Regions from separate parts of the Homo sapiens genome. Here region 2 is linked to region 1. Evidence: fine-mapped expression QTL. A gene starts in region 1. The other region holds a variant in brackets. All regions are shown on one strand. Distances are from middle to middle. Region 1 holds the start of ASGR2 (asialoglycoprotein receptor 2). Region 2 overlaps DLG4 (discs large MAGUK scaffold protein 4).

The links. PIP is the estimated chance that this variant, and not a neighbour inherited with it, causes the effect. A credible set is the group of variants that fine-mapping cannot tell apart.
Region 2: its variant is the best candidate, but not a certain one, in a credible set for the expression of ASGR2 in monocytes (BLUEPRINT, PIP 0.89).

What each region holds. Positions count from the first base shown.
Region 1 is chr17:7,113,518-7,116,418 of GRCh38, reverse strand. ASGR2 (asialoglycoprotein receptor 2) reads left to right here and starts at 1,597. Exons shown (of 9, transcript NM_001201352.2): 1 at 1,597-1,804; 2 at 2,109-2,302. The coding sequence starts at 2,179. RefSeq lists an enhancer at 659-1,445.
Region 2 is chr17:7,211,279-7,214,179 of GRCh38, reverse strand. The region is part of intron 1 of DLG4 (discs large MAGUK scaffold protein 4); the gene reads left to right. Among named protein-coding and RNA genes, the nearest start is that of DLG4, 4.9 kb to the left of the region's middle. RefSeq lists enhancers at 2,122-2,636, 2,637-2,901. The variant GAAA/A (reference allele first, on the strand shown) is at 1,085.

The sequences.
Region 1 (2,901 bases):
TCAAACTTTAGTGTCAACCGTGTATTTCCAAACGCATTATTCTATTCACTCACTCACTCAGTAGATACTTGTTGAGCAGCTACTGTGTGGCAGGCACTGGGGATCCAGGAGAAAGTAACACATACAAATGCACCTGTGTGTGCGGGTGCTTGTGTGTATGTTCTGGATCACAGCATGAAATTCGTCTCTCGCTGTGGGCTGCAGTCAGAGAGCCCAGCGGCTGCTGCTGCCTGGTGGCTGGGTGGGAATGTCAGGGTACTGGGGGGGTGGCTACTTCCCATGTGGGTCAGCAAGTTACAAGAACAGAAAAGGCCTCTGTTTGAATTCCTTTTCGGCACCCGGGGAAACGAGCAGCTTTATAAGAAACCCTGCCCGTAGCCATCCGCCCAAGTTTGGTGAGGGTCAGAAAATCATGCACAAAAACTGTGTTTTCTTTCCCGAGCTATTGTTAGCGCAAGTGTAGACAGTCAGCCACGTTCCTTGCTTCATGGAAGCCAGTCTTCCTCGTAGGACCATGAAGACCTTTTCTTTTCTTTTTCTTTCTTTCTTTTTTTTTTCTTTGAGATGGAGTTTCTCTCTTGTTGCCCAGGCTGGAGTGCAATGGCGCAATCTTGGCTAATGCAACCTCCGCCTCCCAGGTTCAATCGATTCTCCTGCCTCAGCGTCCTGAGTAGCTGGGATTACAGGCCCCTGCCACCACGCCCGGCTAATTTTTGTATTTTAGTAGAGACAGAGTTTCACCATGTTGGCCAGGCTGGTCTCGAACTCCTGACCTCAGGTGATCCACCCACGTCGGCTTCCCAAAATGCTGGGATTACAGGCGTGAGCCACCGTGCCCGGCCAGACCTTTTGTTATGATGTTATTTTCCCCTCTTTACTCCATTTTGCTTTGCCAGTTTCTCTACTCACCTGGGCCACCACCTAGAGCAAGTTGCCTCATCTCTCCGAGGCTCCGCTTCCGAACCCTGTGAAATGGGAGTAACAGAAGTCCTGCCTCGTGGGGGTGTTGTGCTGTGATAAATGAAGAAACACCTTGGAGAATTTAGGGCAGTGGCTGGGCCTGAGGACAGTGTTTGTGTTGCCTGGGCTGGGGCAGGGTCTGGGCCGGACGGGGCTCTCTGAGGTTGGATTCCTCCTGCGAGGAGAGCTGTTTTTCTGCAAAGCCCCTTCCTCCTCCTGCTGAAGCTTCTGGATTTGAGAGGCTTTACTCTCCAGGAGAGTGAAGCGAGTTGGGCCAGAGCTGAGAGTCTGGTGGCCGAGCCCACAGGAAGCTGGGGTCTGTGGTTCAGATGCCGGATTGGGCAAGAGTAGAGAACTGGTCGCTGTGATCCTGGTCAGGGATATTTGGAGACACCCACAGTTCTGGTAAATTCGGAGGCAGGAAGTGAGAGGGGGAGGGAGAGAGGGAAACGGCAAACTGCACCCCAGCCCCTCCTGGCCTGGCACCCCTTCCAAATGGTGCAATGAGTGGGGTGAGTGGCGTGTGGAGTTGAGCGCAGCCCAGGGGACCCCCCTCTCTGGGAATAAGAACAGAGATAGCCCCGTCCCCTGCCCCCACCCCACAAATGAGTTACAGCTCTGTTTCCTCTTCTGTTTACTGTCCAAAGTCCCAGGCCAGGAGGTGCCAGGTTAGAGCTTGGACACTCAGACCCTCCAGTGCAGGCCTTGCCCGGACCAGCCCCTCCTCCACTCTCCTCTCCCCTGTGAGCTCCACCTGCCCCAGTTCTCCTGGCTTTAACCCCTCCTTGGCCAAGGCCAGGGTTGCCTGCGGGAGCCAGGTGTCCGCTCTCCACACCTTTCACAGGTAACTGAGGCTGGGGAGGCAACTGGGACGAGGATGCTTGGGAACAAGGAGGCCTTGGTTCAGGGATGGGGAGGACCCCATGGGAAGCTGTGGGTGGTCGGGTCCATGAGCGTGGGGAGGGGTCTCCTGGCCAGGTCAAGGCCCAAGCGGTCTCCTGAGAAGGGAAAGGACCCAGCGGGATTTCAAACCTCATCCCAAACGCCCTGCCAACCTCAGATCCTACCCAGGCCACCACCCCGAACCCCTCCGACCCTGCGTTCCATCCCACCATCAACCTCCACGTGAATCTGCACCTCTGCCCCAGCCCCAGCCCTCAGAGCAACCTCAGCCCAGCCCAGCCCAGCTCCAGCTCCAGCTCCAGCCCGGGCCCCATCATGGCCAAGGACTTTCAAGATATCCAGCAGCTGAGCTCGGAGGAAAATGACCATCCTTTCCATCAAGGTGAGGGGCCAGGCACTCGCAGGCTGAATCCCAGGAGAGGAAATCCATTTTTGAAAGGCAAGTGTGCAGTTTCTGCGGCTTTGCTCCCCCTCTGTCTCAGCTCATGATTGCTCTGTCCCTTTGAGGTCTCTGCCGCACCCACTCTGTGAACAGGGACTGAGGAGGGCCCGACACCCCCGCTTGTTCCCTCACCTCACCTTCCTGTCTACCCCAGGACCCCAGGAAAGGCATGTGCCAGAGGTGTGGGGAGATCTGGAAGATAACTGCCTGCCCTTCTCCTCCCAACCCAAGAACACATGTGCCTCGTATGTGCGTGTGCACGTATGTGCATATGAGGAATGCAGATTCAGCTGGGACTCTGTGTGTGTGTGTGAGTGAATGTTGTGTGTGTGTATATGTGCGCGAGAGCGTGCATATGTTGTGTGTGTGTATGTCGTGTATGTGAGAGGGTATGTTGTGTGTGAGAGTGTGTTGTGTGTGTATGTTGTGTGAGTATATGTTGTGTGTATCTTGTGTGTGAGTGTATGTTGTGTGTTGTGTGTGTATCTTGTGCATGTGTGTATGTTGTGCGAGTGTATGTTGTGTATGTGAGTGTGTGTATGTTGTGTGTATGTTGTGTGTATGTATGTTGTGTATGAGTGTGTGTATGTTGTGTG
Region 2 (2,901 bases), 98 kb before region 1:
ATTTTCCTAAGATGGAGGTCTGTTCAGATTTCATCAGAGCACCCCTCCTACCTCAGCTCTGTGTTCCCAGGAGACGGTTGCTAGGCGACGGCAAAGTCCTTGATTGCTGCGTTGCCAGGCAACAGAGAAACGGAAAATGGAGGGAAAAGGGAAATGGGGGATGGGGAAGGGTCTTTATGGGCCATGGCGCCCACTGGTGGATAAGCAGGGCCTGCAGGTTTTCTATTCTAGAAGGAAATTTGAGTCCAGCCCCTTCCGCACTGACTCCTTGGATCCTCTGGTGATCCAAGCCTTCCTACCAGATATGAAACTAGGACATTGGGGGTCATCTTGGGGGCGCATGTAACAGATGCCGATCAACGGGGTCAATCTCGCTTGGGTGAGATTCTAGGGAAGTCGTCATTTCTACCATGTATGGGCATTTTATAGAAGTCAGCCGATTTGAGGAGACCCCTCACTGGGTTTTAAGAGCTGGAAGGGTGGGCGTTCAATGGGAGAATATTTGGAAGAGAGGCTTTCAGGTTAAGTTGTTTGGGAGAAAATGGAAATCTCTGAAGAGACCTGAAGGAGGCGGTTGGGAGTGTTCTGGACGATTTGTGGGTCATTGCAGATTGCCGGCCGTATCTTTGGTGTGTATTTTTTGAGGCCTGAGTGTGGAGAAGATATATTTGGGAGCAATCTTCCGACAAAGTTGGAATTCAGAATCGTGGAGGGGATGTTCTGGGCAGACAGAAAAGGGTGTAATCTATGAACCTCAGGGGTAAAGAAAAGGAGAGGAGGTGCCGGGTGCGGTGGCTCACACCTGTAATCCCAGCACTTTGGGAGCCCGAGGCGCGCGGATCATGTGAGGTCACGAGTTCGAGACCAGCCTGGCCAACATGGCGATACCCCGTCTCTACTAAAAATACAAAAAAATTAGCCGGGCGTAGTGGCGGGCGCCTGTAATGCCAGATATCCGGGAGGTTGAGGTAGGAGAATCACTCGAACCCGGGAGCCGGATGTTGCAGTAAGCCGAGATCGCGCCATTGCACTCCAGCATGAGCAACAGAGCGAGAATCTGTCTCAAAAAAAAAAAAAAAAAAAA[GAAA/A]GAAAGAAAGAAAAGAAAAGGAAAAGGAAAATACTTTTAATTAATTAATTATTAATTTTTGAGACCGAGTCTCACTCTGTCGCCTAGGCTAGAGTGCAGTGGCACGATCTCGGCTCACTGCAATCTCTGCTGCCCAGATTCAAGCCATCCTCCTGCCTCAGCCTCCCTAGTAGCTAGGATTACAGGCGCCTGCCACCGCGCCCGGCTAATTTTTGTAGTTTTAGTAGAGATGGGGTTTCACCATCTTGGCCAGGCTGGTCTGGAACGCCTGACCTCATGATCCAACCGCCTCGGCCTCCCAAAGTGCTGGGATTACAGGTGTGAGCCACCGTGCCAGGCCAAAATTTTTTTTTTTAGAGATGGGATCTCACTATGTTGCCCAAGCTGGTGTTGGGCACCTGGCCTCCAGCGATCTTCCCGTCTACATTTCTTTTTATAAGAGTTTTGGAAAAAATTGACGAGATTGCTATTTAATTTGGAGGGTCTGCTTTAAAGTAGATTAAATATTTCCTGAAATTGGGTTCTGGTGTGGATTTGGAGACTGGCATATTAGGAAGTCATGAGTATCTTATTAGATTCGGGGGTTTGGACAGGGGATCCCCAACAAATTAGAGGACTTGTTATTTGGATGTTTATATTAGAGCAAGAGTAATATTTGCACTAATTGCAACATCCCTGTTAGTGGATTGGGAGATAGATGTGATATAGAAAGGGATGATTTAGCATATATTAATTTGGGGGGCCAACAAGGCTCTGTGGTTCCTTAAACTCTTGAAGAAACATGGGCTGCCTATCAGGTGGGGCTGGACTGCAGGGGAGAACTATGCTGGTTAGAGTAGGAGATGCCTTGGAATCTGAGGAGATGCTATCCACAGCACCAATCTTGCGGGGGTTTGGTGGGAGAGGCAGTGTAGATCCCTTGGGGGTTCTTGTGAGAGAAGTGCTGTTTGTTTCCCTGGACTCTGGGAGGCCAGTAGTGACGAGATGTCCAGTGAGGTTTTGGAATGGTTTGGGGTCTCGCGATGTTGGGGTTGGGGGATTAGATGGGATGGAATAAGGGGTCCCTGAGAACTAGAGAGATAAACTGGTAAATTTAAGTCTGTCTTTAATTGTAGAGGGGTCGGAATAGAAGTATACTGTGGAAAGTGAAGTTCACAGAGAAACAGCGTGAACCAGGGAAGTTGGTGGCTAAGAGGGTCTCCCCTCACCCCTCTCTCCCAACGTGACGCTCTTCCTTACTGCGCAGGCGCCGTCACCCCCCCCCCCCCCCCGCCGCAGCCTCCAGTTGCCGCGGCCGCCGCAGCCCCCGCCCCTCTGCCCCTCCCCCTCCCCCAACCCCCGGGACCCTTGATATCCCACCTACCCCCTTCCCTCAGTCCCCCTCCCCTTCTCCATGTCGGCTCGGAACAGATTCGCCTCCATGTGTCTCTGCGTGGTACGTGCCGCGGTATGGGCTCCGGCCCGCTCCCCCTTCCCGGACCCCCGCAAATATCAGGGTGCAAGCTTCAAGCGCTGTCGCTCTTCCTTCTGCTTGGTGCGGGGTCTCTGGGTTGCAACTTCTCGTGGACAGGCGCCGTGGGTCGCCCCTCTTATCATTCACTTTGACTCACACCCCTATGTTTTGGGGGTGCAAGCCTCAGTTCCAGGTCATTCTGTGCAACTGGGGCTCTGGTGAGGAGGGGGCCAAAGGGGAAGGAACAACAGCGACTCCGTCCGTGTCCCCCATTCCCCAGGCCTTTTACTTGTTTTAAGCCCTAATATATTGGGGGTGCAGATATGTCCCAGTAGCATCTGAGTTGTCTGGGTTAGGGCCC